Regions from separate parts of the Homo sapiens genome. Here region 2 is linked to region 1. Evidence: fine-mapped expression QTL. Tissue or cell type: nucleus accumbens. Region 1 holds a variant in brackets; the other region holds the start of a gene. All regions are shown on one strand. Distances are between the middles of the regions.

Region 1 (5,391 bases):
GTTCTCTATGATTAGTTGACAGAGGAAGAGAAGAATAGGGCCTGGTTTACAGATGGTTCTGCACAATATGGAGGCACCAACCAAAAGTGGACAGCAACAGCATTACAACACAATTTTTGGACATCCCTGAAGGACAGCAGTGAAAGGATATCTTTCCAGTGGACAGAATTTCAATCAGTGAACTCAATTCTGCACTTTGCATGGAAGGAGAAATGACCAGATATGTGATTATATACTGATTCATGGGCTATAGCCAATGGTTTAGCTGGATGTTCAAAGACTTGGAACAAGCATGATTGGAAAATTGGTGACAAAGAAATGTGGAGAGGAGGTATATGGATGGACCTCTCTGAGTGGTCAAAAACTGTGAAGATATTTGTATCTTATGTGAATTTCCATCAATGGGTGACCTCAGCAAAGGAGAAGATTAATAATCAAGTGGATAGGATGAATCGTTCTGTGGACACCACTCAGCCTCTTCTCACAGCCAGCTCTGTCATTGCCCAATGGGTCCATGAACAAAGTGGCCATTGTGGCAGGGATGGAGATTATGCATGGGGTCAGCAATCTGTACTTCCACTCACCAAGGCTGATCTGGCTATGACCAATTTGCCAGGAGCAGAGACCAGCACTGAGCCCTCGATATGGCACCATTCCTCAAGGTAATCAGCCAACTAACTGGTGGCAGACTAATTATATTGGCCCTTTTCCATCATGGAAAGGGCAGAGGTTTGTCCTCACTGGAATAGACACCAACTCTGGATATGGGTTTGTCTATCCTGCACACAATGCTTCTGCCAAGACTACCATCCTTTGACTCACAGAAAGCCTTATCCACTGTCATGGTATTCCACACAGCATTGCCTTTGACCAAGGCACTCACTTTACGGCTGAAGAAGTGTGGCTGTGGACTCATGTTCATAGAATTCACTGATCTTACCATGTTCCCCATCATCCTGAAGCAGCTGGACTGATAGAATGGTGGAATGGCCTTTTCAAGTCACAATTACAGTGCCATCTAGGTGACAATACTTTTCAGGGCTGGGGCAAAGTTCTCCAGAAGGCCAGGAATGCTCTAAATCAGCATCCAATATATGGTACTTTTTCTCCCATAGCCAGGATTCACAGGTCCCAAAATCAAGGGGTGGAAGTGGAAGTGACACCACTCACCATCACCCCTAGTGATCCACTAGCAAAATGTTTCCTTCTTGTTCCTATGAGGTTACATTCTGCTGGCCTAGAGGTCTTAATACCAGAAGAGACACATGTTTCAATTAAACTGGAAGTTAAGATTGCCTCCTAGACACTTTGGGCTCCTCCTACCTTTAAGTCAACAAGCTAAGAAAGGAGTTACAGTGTTTGCTGGGGTCATTGACCCGGACTATCAAGATGAAATCAGTCTACTACTCCACAGTGGGGGTAAGGAAGAGTATGCACAGAATACAGGCAATCCCTTGGGGCATCTCTTAGTATTACCATGCCCTGTGATTAAAGTCAATGGGAAACTATAACAGCTCAATCGAGGCAGGACTAACAATGGCTCAGACCGTTCAGAAATGAAGGTTTGGGTCACTCCACCAGGAAAAACAACCATAATATGCTTGAAGTCTGTATATAAATACTTGCATAGATTCATAATTAAATTAACTAAATTTCCTCATTTGAAAATGTTGTAATTCTAAGATAAGCTATGTTTTGCATATATATTTTAACATAGTTCACCTATCTCATTTTTTTAAATGAGAATACATAAAATTACATAAAGAAAAGAAACCACATGAAAAAGCAAATGCTTTCTAGGCCAAGGAATAAGTCTAACTTTATCCAATAGTGAAAATGAAAAGTTAATTAGGTGATTTAAAGCACTGGAAATTTGACAGTAGCTATTTGAATAAAACACCCACATCACAATCAAAGGTGAAATCAAATAGGAACATGAAGCTATGTTCTAGAAAAACATTTTCTCCAAATTATTTTAAGAAATTGCATGCTTCTTCAAAATATGATTTTTGTTTTATAATTCCCTTGCATAATTTGATAATTGGGAAATGTAAAACATTACATTAACATTAATATAGATAAAAGTGAATTTTTATCACCACATTGGTTTTAACTTGTCTTTGTTTCTTTGTAATTTGTGTCAAAAGAAAATAAATCTTGGGACCCAAAAATGACTAAGCTAAAGGGAAAAGTCAAGCTGGGAACTTCTTCAGGCAAACCTGCCTCCCATTCTAATCAAAGTCATCCCTCCGAGGCTCACCTGAGACAAATACATGTTTGATTACTCCCTATCCCCTATTGTTTATGTATAAATGCAGATTCAGTGAGCCAGACTAAATTGTGTATTCAGTGGAAGGCTGATCAAAGACTCAAAAGAATCCAACCTTTTTTCTCTTATCTACTTCTAACTTCAAAGCCCCACTTCATGTTGTCCCACCTTACTGAACCAAACCAGTGTACATCTTACACATATTGATTGATGTTTCATGTCTCCCTAAAATGTATAAAAGCAAACTATACCCCTGACCACCTTGGGCATATGTCTCAGGGCTTCCTGAGGCTGTATCACAGGTGTATTTTTGACCTTGGCAAAATAAACTTTCTAAATTGACTGAGACCTGTGTCAGATATTTTGCATTCACAATCAGTAACCACAGAGGGATTCTGAGGGGAGGTGCCCCTGACTTTGACGAATCTCCTATAGGTGCTTGGTACCAGCTTGAGCTTTTTTATGGCTCAAACCAATAGGGCAATTTGCTGAGGCCTGTAAGCTCCCCCTCCAGAAAATCCCTGATCTCCCCAAATTTGGTTAAGATCTAAAGCTTATTTTGCTGTACAACTCCTCCTTTTGGAGTTTCACTTGCTTCTTACAGGGAAGGCAAGTTTTCCTGCTTCCATGATGTTGGAAGGAAGGTAAGTCCTTTCTGGAGTTTGAGCAAACTTCCAAAAGGGAAGGCAAGTCTGAGTTTTTTCCTGCTTCTAGGATGGTAGATAGCAGTCTTCAGCCTAAGACCCATTCCTAGGTAAGTAGCTGAATTGTTTTTTTTTTATTTTTATTTTTTGTTTGTTTTTTTGTGGGCT[AAAGTT/A]AAGATTAAAAATCAGCTGGTGTTAATTTATCTTTACCATTAGAGTGCTCAGTATTCATATAAATTGTAATATTCATTTGTTTTGCTTAATTGTTTTTTTTTGTTGTTGTTGTTGCCTTTGTAATTGTTTCTGTTTTTGTTATTGTTTCAGTCTTTTTCCTACTGGGTTTGATCAACTCTATCTGACATGATGAAATCTGAAGGAAAGTTCCAATTTATGGGAACAAGGCCTCTGAAGTGTCTAAATTCCCACAAAATAAAAAGGGGAGAGATTTTTTTCTTTTGACTAAAAAAGGGACTTTATTTGTCTAACAGGGCCACATTTTGCTAGCCAAGCCGAATGGTAAGAGCAATGGCTGTTGCCCCACACTGCAGATCCATTGTTAAGGTTCTGTCTTTTTTTTTCTTTTTTTTTTTTTTTCCACTATGATAGCCTTGGTTTGGCTCCTAAATCAAATCCTTTCCAATTTGATACTGGTTACTTTTAAAATATGAGCAATTTGTACTAGCTGGCATGAGATGGAATTTCATTGTGGTTTTGATTTGCATTTCTCTAATGATCAGTGATGTTGAGCTTTTATTTTTCATATGTTTCTTGGCCACATAAATGTCTTATTTTGAGATGTGTCTGTTTATATCCTTTGCCCACTTTTTCATGGGGTTGCATGTTTCTTTCTTGTAAATTTGTTTAAGTTCCTTGTAGATTTTGGATATTAGACCTTTGTCAGACGGGTAGATTGGAAAAATTTTCTCCCATTCTGTAGGTTGCCTGTACTCTGATGATAGTTTCTTTTGCTGTGCAGAAGTTCTTTAGTTTAATTAGATCCCATTTGTCAATTTTGGCTTTTGCTTCAATTGCTTTTGGTATTTTTGTCATGAAGTCTTTTCCCATACCTATGTGCTGAATGGTATTGTCTGGGTTTTCCTCTAGGGTTTTTATGGGTTTGGGTTTTACATTTAAGTCTTCAATAGATCTTGAGTTAATTTTTATATAAGGTATAAAGAAGGGTTCCAGTTTCAGTTTTCTGCATATGGCTAGCCTGTTTTACCACTACCATTTATTAAATAGGAGATCCTTTTCCCATTGCTTGTTTTTGTCAGATTTGTTGAAGATTAAATGGTTTAGGTGTGTGGTGTTGTTTCTGAGGTCCCTGTTCTGTTCCATTGGTCTATATGTCTGTTCTGGTACCAGTACCATGCTGTTTTGGTTACTGAAGCCTTGTGGTATAGTTTGAAGTCAGGTAGCATGATGCATCCAGCTTTGTTCTTCTTGTTTAAGATTATCTATCTTGGCTATATGGGCTCTTCTTTGGTTCCACATGAAATTTAAAGTAGTTATGTCTAGTTCTGTGAACAATGTCAATGGTATTTTTATGGGAATAGCATTGAATCTATAAATTACTTTAGGCAGTTGGCCATTTTCATTGTATTGATTCTTCCTATTCATGAGGATGGAATGTTTTTCCATTTGTGTCTTGTTTTATTTCCTTGAGCAGTGGTTTGTAGTTCTCCTAGAATAGGTCCTTCACATCCCTTGTTAACTGTATTCCTAGGTATTTTATTCTTGCAGCAATTGTGAATGGGAGTTCATTTATGATTTGGCTCTCTGCTTGTCTATTGTTGGTAGAAAGGAATACTTGTGATTTTTGCACATTGATTTTGTATCTTGAGACTTTGCTGAAGTTGCTTATCAGCTTAAAGAGTTTTTGGGCTGAGATGATGGAGTTTACTAAATGTAGAAGCATGTCGTCTGCAAACAGAGACAATTTGACTTCCTCTCTTCCTATTTGAATACGCTTTATTTCTTTCTCTTGCCTGATTGCCCTGGCCAGGACCTCCAATACTATGTTGAATAAGAGTGGTGAGAAAGGGCACCCTTATCTTGTACAGGTTTTCAAGGGGAATGCTTCCAGCTTTTGCCTATTCAATAGGATATTGACCATGGGTTTGTCATAAATAGCTCTTATTATTTTGAGATATGTTCTATCAATACCCAGTTTATTGAGAATTTTTAACATGAAGGAATGCTGAATTTTATCAAAGGCCTTTTCTGCATCTGTTGAGATAATCATGTGCTTTTTGTCTTTGGTTCTGTGTATGTGATGAATTATGTTTATTTAATTTCATATGTTGAAACAGCCTTTCATCCCAGGGATGAAGCCGACTTGATCGTGGTGGATAAGCTTTTTGATGTGATGCTGAATTTGGTTTGCCAGTATTTTATTGAGGATTTTTGCATCAATGTCCATCAGAGATACTGGCCTGAAGTTTTCTTATTTTGTTGTGTCTCTGGCAGATTTCTTAT
Region 2 (5,391 bases), 810 kb before region 1:
TTTTCAAGCAGTCAAACTTCAAAATACACTGTTTTATTTACTATAAGTACTGGATTTCTATAGCAAACTAATGAAGGCACAGCTAGTGCAAGCAGATTTAAACCCTTAGTCTTATGGGCTGGAAAAAAGAAAAAAATAAAACACTTGCATTGGTACTTCATGAACTTTTTTTTTCAAGCAAATATTTGTTTCAGTTAACAATTCTGACAGTTTCACAGCTACAGTCTAACAGAAACATGACCAAAGGACATCACAAAAATCAACACTGTGTAGCACCAAACTAACATGCTTTAGATAATTGACAACAGCTTACATATTTTGAAGAATATTATACTACAACAGCCTAGATAGAATAAACTGGCACTTAGACACTTTTTAGGACTATTTTTAAAATATAGACTACCAAGAAACCACAAAAACTTGACTATAAGGAATAATAGTGTTCAGGTTACAGGTCAGGGTTTTACTTTTTTCAAGGCTGTATGAATCTGCTTCACTTCTTGAGATTTTAAGATTCTTGAAAAATCTTTCAGATTGACTTATTTTCTGTATTTCTTGTTTCCATAATGTTTGCCAAATTGATAGTAGGTACCATTGACTTCTCCAGTATAGTAATAGATTGATTTCAGGATGACATTATCATGTAAAATCTGCCCAATTTCAAAGTCCTCATCCAGGATAGCATCTTCTCGTGGTTCCAGCTTCCCAATCATAGGAATCTCAGGAGGACTAAAGAAGTTGAAGAATGATGCATTAGGAACCACTCTTGGCTGGATTTCAATTTCTCCAGTAGCAGTTGTGCGACTCTGGGTAGTTGTCACAGTAACATCTTTTCCTCTTCTCCAGTCTATCTTGCAGCCTTTGCAATCTTCAATTTCCCATCCCCAAGAAAAGAAGGGATCATTGTGATCTGGTTTTGCCTTTATTATATATGTCTTCACCAGCACCTCATTTCTGAAGTATGGGTTGGGTAGAAAATGAAATTCAAAGGTGTAACTTACAGGCTGGCCAGGTTTTGAGAACTTCAGGCTAACATCCGACAAGAACTTCAGAATGGGCTCATCATACTTCTGAATCATAGGCCCGAGCTTGTCAACATTCTTTAAAACAATCAGCCAATAGTCAGGAATGCCTTTAGGGTCTTCTCTTTTAGGCTTTCCCTTCCTAGCTCTTTTAAGATCTACACTGTCCTGAAGCCTTTCCTCAGGAACTCTTTTATGAGTCTCTCTTACTGCAGCCCTTGCCTTAGCCTCTGTTGCTTTAGGCTGTTCTTTATCATCTGCCTTTACCTGGGGGACTTCTTTAGGATCTTCTTTTACTTCAGGGGTTGCCTCCATACAGTCTTTAGAATCTGCTTTTTCTTCAGCCTTTACCTCAGGAATTTCTTTAGGAACTTCCTTTTCTTCATCCTTCACCTCAGGAATTTCTTTAGGAACTTCCTTCTCTTCAGCTTTCACCTCTGGGTTTTCTTTAGGGTTTTCTTCTTCCTCACCCTCTAAGGGAGGCATTTCACTAGGGGTGTTATCCTGCACCTCCTCATCACTGCTGAACTCCTCATCCTCTGAATTCCATTCACATTCTTCTTCTGTAGGCTCGTATTCTGCATTGATGATTTGAAACCGCCTATCATACAGAGGCTTGTTGAGTTCAGCATATTTTCTTTCAAGATCATGAATTGCTTTTAAGAACAGGGTATCTACCTTGTCACATTCATCTTGAATGTTTCTAAGCGCTTGCACACGATTTCTAACTGCCTGAGGCAGCCTATCCACGAAATTTGTTCCCAACGGGGCCCGCCGCGCCCTTCTGGAAGGCTCAGGTACCCTCTTCTTTCTATACAAGCGGCTGCGGCTGCTAGTGCTGCCGCTGCTGCTGCTGCTGCTGCCGCTGCCGCTGCTGCTGCCACTAGTGCTGCTGCTGCTGCTGCTGTCACTAGTGCTGCTGCTAGAGCTACTGCTGTCAGATTCTTCCCCAGAATCACTAGTCGAGCTAGCCATCTCCTCTTCGGCAACCCCATGGGCGACAGGTTCCGAGACCATTTTAAAATCTGCTTCTGCCATCTTGCAAGCCTACAAACTCTACCAGGGAGACCGCGCGACCAGAGATGGGCAGAAAATGACTCACGGATGCTTGAGTGGCGGCGGCGGAGGCCCGGGCTGCGGAGGTGGCAGCGGCGATGGCAGCAGCGGCGCAGAGCGGAGCTGGAGCTGGGGATGCAGAGGCCGGCGCTGAGGTGGCAGCGGCAGTGGAGGCTTGGGCGACAGCGGTGGCGGCAAGGCCTCTCCCGGCTGCAGCTAGAGTGCCGAGATGTACCGCAGCCGAATGGCGCAGTATGAGACCCCGAGATCTCTTCTCGTTTTAGATCGCGAGCCCCCTCCCCTTGCAGTCAGACCTCCCGTTAATTTCGTTCCCAGTGTGCCTTTAGTTCGCTCCTCATTTGCTGGTCCACCTTAATTGACAAACTGTACGCCCAACGAACGGCCAAACGCCACTACTCCTGGCTCCGCCCACCTTCCCAGACGCCGCTCGCTGGCTGAGGTGCGACCCCTTGGAAGGTGTCCCCCTGCCCCCCAAAAAGTCTATATTTATAGTTTTATAATTAAAAAAGAAAAAAAAGCGTAGACATGAGGTAAAAATACCAGCCATAGTTCCTAACAAGGGCAAAAGAGGCGTGTCTTCCTTCTCCCATCCGCCCACCCTGAATTCCCGTTTAGTTTGTCACGGGTCTCTTGACAAAAAGCTGTAAAAAAAAAAAAAAAAAAAAAAAAAAATTGAATGAAAATGGTCCAAATGGCGTCATTGGGTAGTGTGACTATGGACGATTTAAAAACAAAACGATTTTCTCTAAATATTCTATGAGCATGCATTTTTACACTGGATAAAAAAGGGGAGAGTCGGTTATTGGCAGAGGAGGGAGGGACTAGACAGCAGGCGTATTGCATTCCACGAAGCTGATTTAATAAGTGCTGTCTGTGATGTTTGGCAAGCCTGGTTTATATCCATCTACAAGGTTTGCGAACCCATGTTGCCGTGAGTCAGTTACACCATTTTTATTATATTTCTCTTTTTAGGCTGGCATATTATATACCCCAACCTTGCTGCTAACTTGCCACGTAGCCCTTCTCAATGCTTGTAACAACCTTGTAGATAAAACAAAGAGGTATTAAATGTTAGGTAGTATTGTTAAAAAGCAAATGATTTGCGTTATACTTTTGTGCAGCAGGTTTCAATTCCAAGAACAGTGGGATGGGAGGGGGAATTTGTGCTAATGAATGTGCATCTTCTGTCAGTGTATGCGATGTCATCTGCCACCAATTTCCTTCTAATGTTGTAAAATTCTAGCCATACTATAGTATGATTTACAAGTCCAGTAATATGTGAATAAACTTTTGCAAAATGAAGTTTAAAAACGAGTATTTGTTATTTTTATTTACAGGATTTTTTTTTCTGCTACAGAACAACTCCCTTGGTACAATAAAAAAGACGAGTATTTACTTTTCATTGAAAGGTAAGGATCATATTTAGCACATTTTAAAGAATGACAAAAATTACTCATCTCCATCTGAATAAAAGTTTACAGGATACAGTCATTTAAAGATTTATTTTAGAGAATTATCTTGATAATTCTATGGAAACAGGAAAATCCACAGAGGTAATTTGGCATACTAATGTAGACAATTACATACTTAACCGCATTAACTATCTAAACCTGGTCATAGAATACAAGTGGTAAATTAAAATATGAAATATGATAAATTATTCATTTCAAATGAGGAAATGTATTAAAGTTAGATTAATCTTTATAGAATTTGTGCTTTGTCATGTAATCACGTTTTTTAAAAGTTAGGAAACGCTTTTCTGTTTCATAAATGCATTTACTTTTATTGTTTATCTCTAATTGTCAAAGTCTGTGAACATTGCAAAGATAAAACAATATAGAAAATTCCAACAGTAGTAAAAACACAAAATCTTAACCACCAAATGATAAGAATTACTAGCATTTTGATGCACTTCCTTCCAGAAATTTCCTTGTGCATATACATACCTGCCTATTTATGTATACTGCTTTATCTATGTGACACCATATTATGTTTTGTAATCTTTTCATTTAATTTATCAATTACTAATGGCTATATTTTCATGGCAAATGATCGACATCTTATTTTTAAGTAAGTGCATATTCCATGGAAATAATTGCCTTAATTTATTTGACCAGATTCCTGTTATAGGGTGGCCATTTCTATACCATCTCTCCCCTTAAATACATACTATTTTCCTGCTATAATCAAAGTGTCCCTGGATACCTAAAGCATGTATTTCTATGCACTTGTGAAAATTGGTCATAAGATAAATTCCTAGAAATGGATGGCTTGGGGATGATCATTTCATATTATGAAATTATTATTGTATACATATTGCCAAACTCTCTGCAGAATTATTATCACAATTTACAGTTCCAACAGTGCATAAAGTTCATTTTTTTGTTATTCAACTAATATATTTTTGTGCTTGTCATATGCCGGGCAAATGTGGTAGAGGATTGTAGTATAATGGTGAATGAAATTTACTAAGTGCATATCCTTTCGTTGAATAATTTTAATCAAAACATATGTTATAGAAACAATGATTTACGTCATTGATGTTATACCATAAATATTGTTCTGAAACTTACTATTTTTATTTTAAATTATGGAGATTTAAAAAAATGTATGCTCTTATGTTTTAAACTTTGTAGCATTAGGAATTAGTATTTTAGAGTCAGTCATGAGTTAGGGATCCAGATTTTTAAAATATTTATTTTTATTAGCTAGCTAATTCTTCTAGTACCATTTATTTGGTAATCTTTCTATCTCCTGCTTACTTGAAATGCTATTTTGATCACATTAAATAAATTGCTTGGGTCTGTCTCTAAATTCTTTTCTGATCCATTGGTCAGACGTTTGCTGCAAACAACTAATGAGTCGGTTTTAAGATAACTTTACATTTTGTGAAGATGATATGTGTTCATTGATAAAGTCAGGCAATACATTGAAATACAAAGAAGAAATTAAAAGTAACTCAAAATACCACTGAGAAGTAATCACTACTTACATTTGTAATCAACATCTCCAAATTAATTTATCAATATTATGTATTCATATTTCTTAGATTAGTGGTAAGATTGTCTTTTCATATGTTTATGTTTTTTTGAGAATTGTCTATTCATATTTTTTTGCCACTGAATTAAGCAAGAAATTAATCAATGGTGAAATCCTAAAGGTAAAATGATTTTGGCCTTGACTTAAGACAACTATGATTTCTTCAGGAAATAACGCATGATATTGGGCAAATGTGACTAAATTACTTTCAGTTACTTTCATATTAAAATTGGTTGTTTTTTTTTTTTTGGAT

Which allele goes with the higher level. Positions count from the first base shown, and alleles are read on the strand shown. Sizes are in standard deviations (SD) of each study's normalised expression.
In carriers of allele AAAGTT in region 1, the expression in nucleus accumbens of the gene that starts at base 2,962 in region 2 tends to be higher than with A alone (moderate effect, 0.64 SD a copy in GTEx).

Evidence for each region.
Region 2: it holds the start of FAM133A, and the variant in region 1 is fine-mapped to the expression of FAM133A in nucleus accumbens (GTEx, PIP above 0.99).

Annotation. Positions count from the first base shown.
Region 1 is chrX:94,477,632-94,483,022 of GRCh38, forward strand. No RefSeq gene overlaps it. Among named protein-coding and RNA genes, the nearest start is that of MIR548M, 580 kb to the right of the region's middle. The variant AAAGTT/A (reference allele first, on the strand shown) is at 3,082.
Region 2 is chrX:93,671,245-93,676,635 of GRCh38, forward strand. It overlaps FAM133A (family with sequence similarity 133 member A), which reads left to right and starts at 2,962. Exons shown (of 4, transcript NM_001171109.2): 1 at 2,962-3,030; 2 at 3,437-3,508. NAP1L3 (nucleosome assembly protein 1 like 3) reads right to left here and starts at 2,334. Exons shown (of 1, transcript NM_004538.6): 1 at 1-2,334. The coding sequence starts at 2,060. The coding sequence ends at 540.